2 separate regions of the Homo sapiens genome follow, and region 2 is linked to region 1. Evidence: fine-mapped expression QTL. Tissue or cell type: whole blood. Region 1 holds a variant in brackets; the other region holds the start of a gene. All regions are shown on one strand. Distances are from middle to middle.

Evidence for each region. PIP is the estimated chance that this variant, and not a neighbour inherited with it, causes the effect.
Region 2: IDS starts here. The variant in region 1 is fine-mapped to the expression of IDS in whole blood (TOPMed, PIP 0.97).

The regions. Positions count from the first base shown.
Region 1 is chrX:149,648,480-149,653,905 of GRCh38, forward strand. It overlaps the pseudogene LOC100420321. Among named protein-coding and RNA genes, the nearest start is that of TMEM185A, 19 kb to the left of the region's middle. The variant T/C (reference allele first, on the strand shown) is at 3,404.
Region 2 is chrX:149,502,215-149,507,640 of GRCh38, forward strand. It overlaps IDS (iduronate 2-sulfatase), which reads right to left and starts at 3,092. Exons shown (of 9, transcript NM_000202.8): 1 at 2,821-3,092; 2 at 1,943-2,079; 3 at 1,098-1,275. The coding sequence starts at 2,923. RefSeq lists enhancers at 1,671-2,219, 2,343-2,844, 2,837-2,996 and a silencer at 2,181-2,280.

The DNA.
Region 1 (5,426 bases):
GAAGCTGCTTGTGGTGTGCCTGGTCCAGCTGCAGGTTTGTGGAGAGCCAACACCTGTGCCAGTGCCTAGAGCTGCCTGCCCCACTGCAGCAGCTGGCATGTCGGACTGTGTGCAGTGGCTGGACCCCACAGTCATTCACACAACCCTCACCATTCCACGCCTGACTCGCCCTTGGCGGGAATTGGACACAGACTGGTAGTGCGAGCTGAGTGCAGCATGCCAGATTGAATGGTCAAAACAAGCCCAACAGGCCCAAGCAAAATTCAGGCAAAGGTGCCAGTGGCCACAGAGGTTTCTTGCCAGAAAAATGACACCCCAAAGGTCCCATAACATTACAAAATAACAAACTCTTATACATGAAATGGATTAGTAAAAATACATGTGTGATTAATATCATTCATAAACTTAGATGTTAAAACTAATTAAATCTTCTGTTAAAAGGAACAAATTTGAAAATTACTAAAAGGAAACAAAGATAAATCTCCAATCACTCAATAGAACAGGAAGCCAAAGATGGTATGCAATGTGTTTCCTTCCACCCACCTTGACCTCCCTTACCAAGAACTCTGACTACTCTGTTCAAATACAGGGTGAAGAAAGGGCCTGATTTCACATGGGGTAGGTTGTGCCCCTGGAACTTGCACTGGCCCTGTCCCTAAACCTGCCACCTGGTGGCCCTGGCTGCAACTTGTACTCATACTCCCTCTTCCCCCTCTCTTAAAGCCTCTTCTTACAGAGACGGGTAGGAGGTGGGATCTGTCCCATGGACCTTGGCCACATACTCCAGGACTTTCATCTTGTTGGTTTTAGTGTGGGCTCTTGGACTCTACAGGAACTCATAGTGTGCAGGATCACTGCTGGGCACCTGGTGGTACTCCAGGTAGTTTTCCTGCACCCAGTCTTGGGTGAGCAGCTTCCTGGGCTTCCCATAGACACTGTGCTTCTTCCCAGCATACAGCCCCATCACACTCAGGGTTTCCCATATGACCTCTTCAGGGGTGCAGTTGCCCTCCATTATAATCGTGCACAGGACCATTATCTGGAGGCCTGCATTGGGCTTGCTCTGATCATCACCCAGCAGGCCGTCATAGGAGAGGCCCAGGGAAGTGACAAGGATGTAGGAGTGGCCAGTGGTATCCACTTCCTTCATGTCAAAAAAAAAAAAGACCAGCCACATGCACTTGAAGATCACAGGAAAGTAATCCTTATAATTTTTGATGACACTCTCTAGCATTTCTGCCTTTGTGTTTGTCTCCTTGACTCAATACTTGTAGAGCAGGAAATGAACCAACTCAGTCACCTTCCCATCAAGTGCTTCTTGGAACAAGGTCTTCAGGTCTGCTGGGTCTGGTGAGGTGCCTGGAGCCTCCTCTTGGCTGCTGGAGCCCTCATTAGATTGGCTCCATAGAGTGTTGTCAATGGTAGTGGGGGAGGTAGAGGTTCCCTGAGGACTCTGGGGAGAACCAGGTGACCCAGCAGCAGGCAGCCCCTCCAGGGTGCCCACTGTCAGAGGAGAGGAGAAGGAGGCAGCCTCCTGTTCCTCAGCCAAGGGAGCCTGCACACCCACCAGGCCCAAAGCCTCGTCTCCTTCGGCCTCAAGGCTTTCCTCAGGCTCGCAGTGCTGATTCCTCTGCTCAGGAGACATGATGACTCTGGTCAGAATGGCAGAGTGTGGGCAGGAGCTGGGCAAGTGGGACCCACAGGCCTGAGGAGAGAGGGAGCCAGTGAGGGACCTCAGCTGAGAGCCGAACCTTGGAGGCTCTAACAAAAGCAGACTTATGGATCTTTTCATTTGGTGCTCCTCTGGGGCCTCCTGGGGCACCTATCCTCCTAGCTGGCCTGTTCACCGAGAACTTGGAGGAAGTGAGAGTGTTACAGTGGGTAGCTAGTCAGGTATGAATAGGGAAGGAGAGGGTTCCCCCAGCCCCTTCACTCATGTGCACATGCATGCGTGCGTGCACACACACACACTAGGAATGTTGGGTGACCATTAGGCGATGGTCAAGTGGTTGTTAACTATTTCTGTAAAGTAATAATTGTTCACAGCCCTTGCCAGGGGAAGGCAGTCTCCTAATAGAAAACACCTGAAATGGATCAGCAGCTTCCCAACAAGATCTCAGGACTGGGGAGAAAGTAACACAAGATCTCTGAAGTAGGCTGATATGGTTTGGCTGTGTCCCCACCCAAATCTCATCTTGAATTCCCACGCATTGTGGGAGGGACCCAGTGGGAGGTAACTGAATCATAGAGGCAGGTCCTTCCCATGCTGTTCTCATGATAGTAAGTCTCATGAGATCTGATGGTTATTATAAAGGGGAGTTTTCCTGCAAAAGCTTTTTTTTTTTTTTTTTTGCTTGCTGCCATCCATGTAAGATGTGACTTTCTCCTCCTTGCCTTCTGCCATGATTGTGAGGCTTCCCCAGCCACACGGAACTGTAAGTCCAGTTAAACGTCTTTCTATTGTAAATTGCCCGGTCTTGGGTATGTCTTTATCAGCAATGTGAAAACTAATACATATGCCAACATAAAACCCCAAGTCAAGAGGTCAAGCTGTGACTTTGGTTTCTCAAGTTGACTACTTGGCCCTCTTCCGAGTTATACTTTTCTTGTTTCCTTTCCTTCCTTTCCTTACTGTTCTAAAGCTTTGTGTTTTGTTTGTTTGTTTGTTTGTTTTTTGCCTCAGTCTTTCCTTCTGCCTTTGGCCCCTCAGTCGAATTCTTTCTTCTGAGGAGGTAAGAACTGAAATTGCCGCAGACCTATATGGATACACCACCAGTAACTCAGGGTAACTTGGGTACCTGCCACCACTAACAAGAGGGCTCCTCAGGGTGCAGCTTGTCAGCAGAAGCCACGGCTCCAGCAATAACAGTAGGACAGGTGGGTTGGCACTTTGGAGTCCCCTCTGCTCTGGGGCCGGTGGAGCCCTTTGTATACATTTAAAGTAAACACCTCACCTTGCCTGCTGGCAATACCTGGGCCTCCTCTGCTGTATGACTTCAGGACACTGCCTCAGACCAAGGCCCAAACCTCTCTGAGACCTGGGAGAAAGAAGTGAGGGGGCACCACACGGAAAATTCTGCACGGGATTCCCAAGGCTGACAGAAGGAGCAGGTTTCAGGGGTGCCTCCTCTGTCTGCGTTCCTCCAGGTATTCAGATTTATTCCCGACAGGGCCCAGCCCTTTCGCTCCTGCTCAACTGTGGATGAGTCTTGTGTGCCAAGGCCACCATCTTCCTGGGACCCCCAAGGAGAAAGTGGGGGACCATGTCCCTTCTCCACAGGCCTGCCTTGGGCCTCCCAGGACTGATAGCAGAGGCAGATTTCCTAGGTCCAGGATAACAGGTCTGCTGAGTCCTCTCTCAGGGCTCTAGGGGACTTCTCTCTTTGCTGGCCTGAGGCCCTAC[T/C]CCTCATATTACACCCCTCTCGTCACTGGCACCCCAAAGACACAGCAAAGATGTGCCACACACAGCCAGCACTCCCAGGACCTCCCAGGGTCGAGGTCCTCTGAGTCCTCCCTCTTCTTCCTCCTCTTGATCCTGTCAGGGCTGAGCCTCACCCCTTTGTGGACCTGAATCTATATCCCTCAAATTCCCAAGGCCAATTGAGAAGGTGCCTCAGTCTCAGAAAGAAGTGGAGTAGGCCCCCTGTTCTGGGTTGCTGGGTCCCCTCAGGCCTGCCTTGTCTCCCAGCCTGGCCTGGACCCACCTTCTGCTCCCCTGAGGCCGTGCTCATGATTCCAAGCCCCTTCCCTCCATCAGCCCCCGATGTGAACATCAGGATCCACATGCCTGTCCACCATGCCCGGAACTTCCCAGGGCTGACAGCAGAGATGGAGCCTCGCTCTGTGGGATCTCAGCCCTCCTTCAGGGTCTGGACCATGATGCCTGGCAGGCAGAGCATGGGTCCTGCCCTTTCCTAATCAGCCTTTCCCTGGTCACACCAAGCTCTGTCTCCAGAATGCCCTGCGGCTTAAGTGGCAGTGGAGCCGGGAGCGGCCCAGCCTGAGAAGTCTGCCCCCAGGTGGCCCAGGGCTGGCAGCAGGGGTGGCACTGGGTTAATTGGGGTCCTCTCTCTGGGGTAGGGGCATCCTCAGTCTTCCTCAGTGTCTCACCTTGCCTCCTCACAGAGCCGGGGCCTGTTTCACTCCACCAATCTCAAGCTGCCACTCAGAGCGAGGCGCTCTTGCTATCCTCTGACCCCTGAGGCCACGTCAGTGGCGTGACATCCGGCCCCCAAGCCTGGGGCTTCCCTGGGTCGACAGCAGCAGCGGAACTGGATTCTTCCAGGCATGGGGGTAGGAATGGTTATAGGGGCCCTCAAGCTTCCCTTAGGGTCCTGACATTGATTCCTTGCAGAGCCTGGACACCCTGCCCTCTGCCAATTGGGTCTGCTCCCTTCACACCAAGTCTCTGACTCCCAGTCCCCTGAGGTGGCAGTGGTGGGAGGCGTGTGTTCAGGGCGACAACATTGCCAGGATCTTCCAGGATTGTTAGAAGGGGCTGAGCTGGATTCTCTGGTTCCTCTACAAGGGGAGGGTGGACTCTCAGTCCTCACTCAAGAGGATCCTCCTCCTGGCTCTTGGATCTTTGATGAAGCCATGGGCAGGAGATACTCTGTTTCTGCCACTTCTGAGCATTTGCCCAGCTGCATCTCTTGCAGAGAATGGCTGCGGGTCCCAGGCCAGGTACTCCCTGCAGAGCGGCAGCTTCTGTGATTGTAGTGACCTCTGGGAGAAGACACACACCTTCCCAAGGAAGCTCTTCCCCAGCCACAGGTCGAGTTTGCAAACCTGTTTTCCTAAAATATTTGTTTTTACATTAAATAGGCTGAGCAGCAGCATGAAATTTGGGGATTCCTGCCATTAGAATTATCGAGTATTTCATAGCTCAGTGCAGTGATTTTCATTTTTAAACTTTCATTCAGCATCAGAAATCATACTTAACCTCATTATGCCTGTTTCATTCTAATGCTCAACACTCTATTTGTAATCCATTCTTTATGTTCAGTTAAGCCAATTCACCTATTAATGTGGTTTTAGGTGGTTATTAGCACAGACTGGAGCTACTACTGTTTCAATGAAACCAGACTACTGGCACCTGTGGTCTCAGGTGCCACCTGACATTTTCACACTGGAATAGGGGCAAAAATTTAAACATTTCCTTCTACACATCCTGTCATCTTCCTTCTATGCCAGCTATGGACTCTCCCTAACTTCCTTGACACTCTGGCCATTTCGATTACAGGTACCAGTTAAACACAGTCTTCATTCTCCCCCAGGGCTTTGCTTTGTTGTTTAGATTTTGTTGTTGATACTATTTGTTTTTTTATTTTATTTTATTCTTTCTTCTATAGTTTTCCAGGATTGATTTTGGTAGTTGAGGGCAGAAGTCCAAGCCTGACATTCATCTTGGCAGCTAAATTTTAAGC
Region 2 (5,426 bases), 150 kb before region 1:
GCTTAGAGCCTGGTGCCAAAATCCAATCATCAGGAGGGAGGAGGTCAAGCAACATCACTCAGTCCTTGCCTGGTTTCCCCTCCCAAAGCACAATCTCCTCCCTCTGCTGTGTTTCCTCCTCTCTCCAAAATCATCACTTCCCTCCAGCTGCATTTGGGCAAGGGGTATGGTAATGAGAACACCAAACTGCAGAAAGTTCTCCTGACACTGGACTTTTGGCTGTGCAATATGATTCCTGACAGGTTCACCTCTGAAACTGGCCTGACTTAGTAGAGCTGAATGTCACTCTCAACCTGGGCTGGCCAGCTGAGCTCCTGCAGAAGGCTGCCAAGCCTGCCGGTGTAACCACTGAGCAAAGGGAAAGAGACTGAAAACATTCGTCATTCCCAAATGATAAGCATTATTGTCCCTATGGTGCTCTTGTCTTCCAATACTTTTTTCTCCATTTTTTTTCTCAAATACTCATGCATTACTTCTATAAATAAAAAGTTTTAAAGTTTGTTTGCTTTTCACTATCCCCATATTGGCATTAAAGAGAGCCAGTTTATCAGGCAGCATTTGAGGTAAGGAATGTCCGTCTCTGGGACCCTATAGATCCTGGGTACCAGATTACACTCATCTTTCTGACTTAATTTCCAGAGTGGATAGCAGCCCCTACCTAAGCACAGCCCCCTCATTGGGCAATAAGTCAGCAACAGCAATGCTGGCCACACGGGAGGCCCTCAGGTGTCCTCACCCCACCCCTAGGTTTACTGACAGGTACCCTGCAGGGGAGAGGGTGGGGCCCTGAGCTGGACTCCACCCAACACTGCCACCTCCCCAGCCTGTGTCCTCCCTACCACCCGAGGAGCTGAAAGACCCAACAGCACACCCTCAGTGGTTTCTGAAAGGAAGCAAAGCTCTTTCTACCCTTTTTCACTTTGGGTGAAAACGTGGCTGGGTTGACAAGTCAGTTTTTTAGAAAGGAAGCACTGACTAGCGAGGGACTCGCCCAGCCAGAAGAGGGCTCTGCAAAGACAGCCCCATCCCCAGGATGGGAATGCTGGATTCAGACACCACAAACCAAGAGAACCCAGACTCTGGACATGGAGCAGTACCAGGGTGAAAGACTTTTCCCACCGACATGGTCACATAGCCATTCTCCTTGAAGTACTGGGGGATGGTGGAGAAGTTTCCAGCGTGCACCCTCCAGTAGGAGTTGAAGTCGTACAGGCGGGTGGTGTCAGGTCTCCTGCCAGTGAGGAAAGAAACGCGGCTCGGGGCGCACACTGCTTGCTGTTAGGGAGCAGAAGCAGAGGTAAGCATCGCCACAGCAAAACATGTCTGCCATCTCTTAGGTAACCAAGCAACCGCCCTCCCGAGGCTCCTAGCAAACAGCTTGGTAGCTGAGTCATGCAGAGCTCAAACCAGACACTGGGATTTGGGTGTCACCTAGGCAACAGACTGCTTCCGGGAGAGAAAAGGGAAGCAATCAGCCCCTGAAACCAGCAGATGCTTATCTCCTCCTACGCAATGGCCTCCCCAGGCACACAGAGCGGCCAGTGTTGCTGGGGGCAGAGCCATGAGGGGGTTCAGGGAGCAGGGCCACCCTGGCTAGCTCTCACCTGAGGCCCAGCCTGCAGACCTGTGGGTGCCCTTCTGCAGCACCCCTTCCTTCTGAGCACCAGGCAAGCGCCCGTTCTGGGAGAAAGCTGGCCAGGGCTGCCATGAACACATCAGGGCCAGGGCGCACCTTGCACCCAAGGAGAAGGCCACCCTTGAAGGTCAAGCTTTCCCATGAGTGGAAAACCAGATTTTCTCCACTACCATTTTCCAGACTATGCTTCCCTCTAACAAGATGTCCCGCACAATCTGTGCCATCTGACAATAGCTGAAGCTCCCCGCCCCCAACCCTCAGTGCACGAAGCAGCACACACCCACAGCTAGAGGTTCCCAGACATACCTGCGCAAAGGCATTCTGGAAGAGGAGGCTGTGGGATGCCAGTTGGTCAATATTTGGGGACCTCACCAGCTTATCCCCATAACAGCCCAGGGAGGGGCGCAGGTCATCCACGATGATGAGAAGAACGTTCAGAGCATCTACACAGGAGGGAGGGGCTTTGGTGAGGTAACCTGCACTGACACTGAACCCTCCCTCATGGTAGGTGCTAGGTTACTAAGAGGCCCAAGGCTGGACCCTGCACCTTAACAGCCTAGCCAGGGAGGGCGCTGTGCCTCAGCAAGGGTGGGAGTGGGGCTCGAGGAGGAAGCCTGAGTCCTGGGTGGCAGGGTTAGGCTTTGGTCATGGCCTCCAACCTGGGTGAGGAAGCGAGATAGTGAGTGAAAGATGGTGGAAAGGAAAGATGAATTTAGGAAAAAAAGAGAATGATGTATGCAGGAAAGGACAGATGGTTGGATGGAGGAAGATAAGGAGGAAAAGATGAATAGCTGAAGGGAAGAAAGGATGGAGAGAAGGAGGGGAGAAGAGAGAGAAATATGAATGGATAGAAGGTAAAAGGGACGGATGGACCAATGGAGGGAGGAAAGGAGGGGGAAAGATGGATGGATAGAGATGGGAAAGATGGGGGGAAAGAGGAAGGGAAGCACGGAGGGATAGGAGATGGATGGATGAATAGATGGAAAGAGGGAAGGGAGGGATGAAGGGACGGTAGGAAGGAGTGAAAAATGGAGGGAGGGAACGAATGATGGATGAAAGAAGGAATGGTAGGAGAGAGGAAGGGTAAAAAGAATGGATATAAACAAAGAAGGAAGGAAAGAAGGAAGGAGGAAGGAAGGGAGGGAGGAAGGGAGAAGAGATGGCAGGGAGGGCGTGGGCGGCACCTGTGGTCGAGTTGGCCTGCGTTTCGGATCCGAGGGCGACGCAGACGGAGCTCAGAACCAGACCCAGCCAGAGAAGGCCTCGGCCGGTCCGGGGTGGCGGCATTTCGGCTTCGACGCGGCCGCTTCAGAGCGGCGGGGACAGGCTGCAGCAGGTGGCGCAGTTAGCAGCCGCCGCCGCAGCCACAGAGACCTCCTCGTCGGGAACCCATGAAGACTGCGCAACACAGCCGCCGCCCGGGCCCGCAGGCCCGGGCGCTGGCCGCAGCGCGAGTGCGTCCGTGCGACTCTTCCCTGCGTCCCTCCCCTCCGGGGCGGGTTCTAGAGGTGCGCGTCATCCTGCAGCAATAGGCGTGGCCGAGAGACAGGCGCAGAGCGGGGGCGGGCCAGTTGCCTTGCAAGCTTCGCAGACCCAGCGGCCCGCAGGCCCCTAGGTGTAGAACTGCTAGGGGTATAGCGATTCAGCCACTGCCCTTAACAACTAGCAGTTACCCGTCTTTTTGCCTTTGCTTGTGCTATGCCTTTCACCTGGAAGCCCTGCCCTTCCTTCTTTTTATAAAAGACACACTTCTTGTAAGCCAGCCTCAATGCCATTCTCCTTCCATGAGGCCTTTTGAGAAAGTCCCTTCCTCCATCTAAAGGGACTCCCTTTCCTATTCATTTCTTCAACTAATTCTTATTAAGTATCGCAAATATGTATACCAGGCGCTGTTGGTGGCACTGGGGCTCTATGTCCCTGCTTTGGTGGAGCTTAAAACAATAAAAAAATATAGAGAGTGTCGGTGGGCATACCCGGTCTGGAGAAAAATAAAGCGTGGGTGCGGGGCATGCTTGTTATTTTCTATGGGGTGGCCAGGCAGGGCCTCACTAGTGAAGTGGCATTTGAACAAAATTTTGAAGCAAGTGAGGGAGCAAGCCGCATTGAGGTCTGCAAGAAGGGTGCGCCAAACAGAGAGAGCAGCAATTGTGGGGAGATGGAATCCTAGCCCTACACTGTACTGTACTGAATACTATTATACCGTCCTAATACTGCAAACACAGTTTGATTTTCAACTTTGAGAATCAATCTATAACAAAGCCCAGATGACTTAATTATGACTAAACAACAATGGACAATGGGAAGGTACAAATACAGCTGTGATGGTGCTGTGGTGCACTGCTCAGATCTCCCTTCAACACCAAAAATTTTATTTCCCTAGCTGGCTTGAGAGCTGTTAGCTGTCGTTAGCCCTCATCAGAAATTGTCTTAGAAAAAGATAGGTACCTCAGCCAAGGTCACCCCTGTTCTCAGGAAGCCCACATCAGTGATTCAACTTGAAGGTACAAAGGTGCAGCCCCTTACCCCAACTTGGGACATCTCTGAAAGGCCATTTCAGCTTCAGAGCTCCCTGTGGGGTTAACTGAAGCCTTTTTTGAGACTGCCCACTTTCTCTGTCTGTTGAATTTTGATTTCTTCCCTCCCCTCCCCTTCTACAGGTGTTGATCCTAAGAGTACTCCCTAAGAAACTTCCTGCACATTACTCTACATCTTAGTCAGCTTCCTTGGGAACCTGGCCTGCAGCAACAGTTGACAAAAAGCTGGGAGGAGGAAGGGAGATGGCAGGAAATGTAGGCACATTAATTTAGGGTTAGCAATTTAGGATTGTCTCCTTTGCCCCAGCCTATCGCAAAAAAATAATAATAATAATAATAATAAATCAATAGTCGCTGTCCCCAGTTCATAGAAAGAGAAATACAGATTTAGGGATATTACTTAAAGATACAAAAGTAAACAATAGAAAACTTAAAAATGGCAATAAATCTATATAGTAAAAGGAGAAGGGAAAATGGCAGGGAGAGATGAAACAAAATTTGTCATGAGTTGATAACCAATGAAGTTCATTGATGAACACCTGGGGTTTATTATACTATTTTCTGTAATCTTGTATAGGTTTGATCAATTTCCAAAATCCAAGGTTAAAAATATGTACATAAAAAGAGGAATGGATAAGTGATCTCATCTATCATAGGAAGAAGTCAGCAATGTCTAAAGTTGAAAACATTAGAAAGTTGATATAGAAATAGCATAGTATTTAGAAAGACAGGGACAATCTACTAGAAGAAATGAAAGTAGAAACATTTAAAATGAGAACAGAAGAGGGAAGGTGCAGGGCAGAGGGCCTTTGCTTTGTATGGTATGTCTTTTGGTCCTTTTTGACTTAGGTGTTAGTGTCCTCCCCCCAAAAATTGTATGTTGGAGTCCTAACACCCAGTACCTCAGAATGTGATCTTATTTGGAAACAGGGTCTTTAACAGGGTAATCAAGTTAAAAGGAGGTAATTGGGTTGGGCCCTAATCCAATATGACTGGGGTCCTTATCAAAAGAAAAAATTTGGACACAGACACAAACACATAGAGAGAAGACATCCATGTGAAGACAATGGATTGAAGTGATGCATCTACAAGCCAGTGGATGCCAATGATTGCCAGCAAACCACAAGAAGCTAGGAAGAGGCAAGGAAGCATTCTTCTTCTATAGGTTTCAGGGGGTGCATGGTCCTGCTGGCACCTTGATTTAAGACTTCTGGCCTCCAAAACTGTAAGACAATGCATTTCTGTTGTTCTAAGCC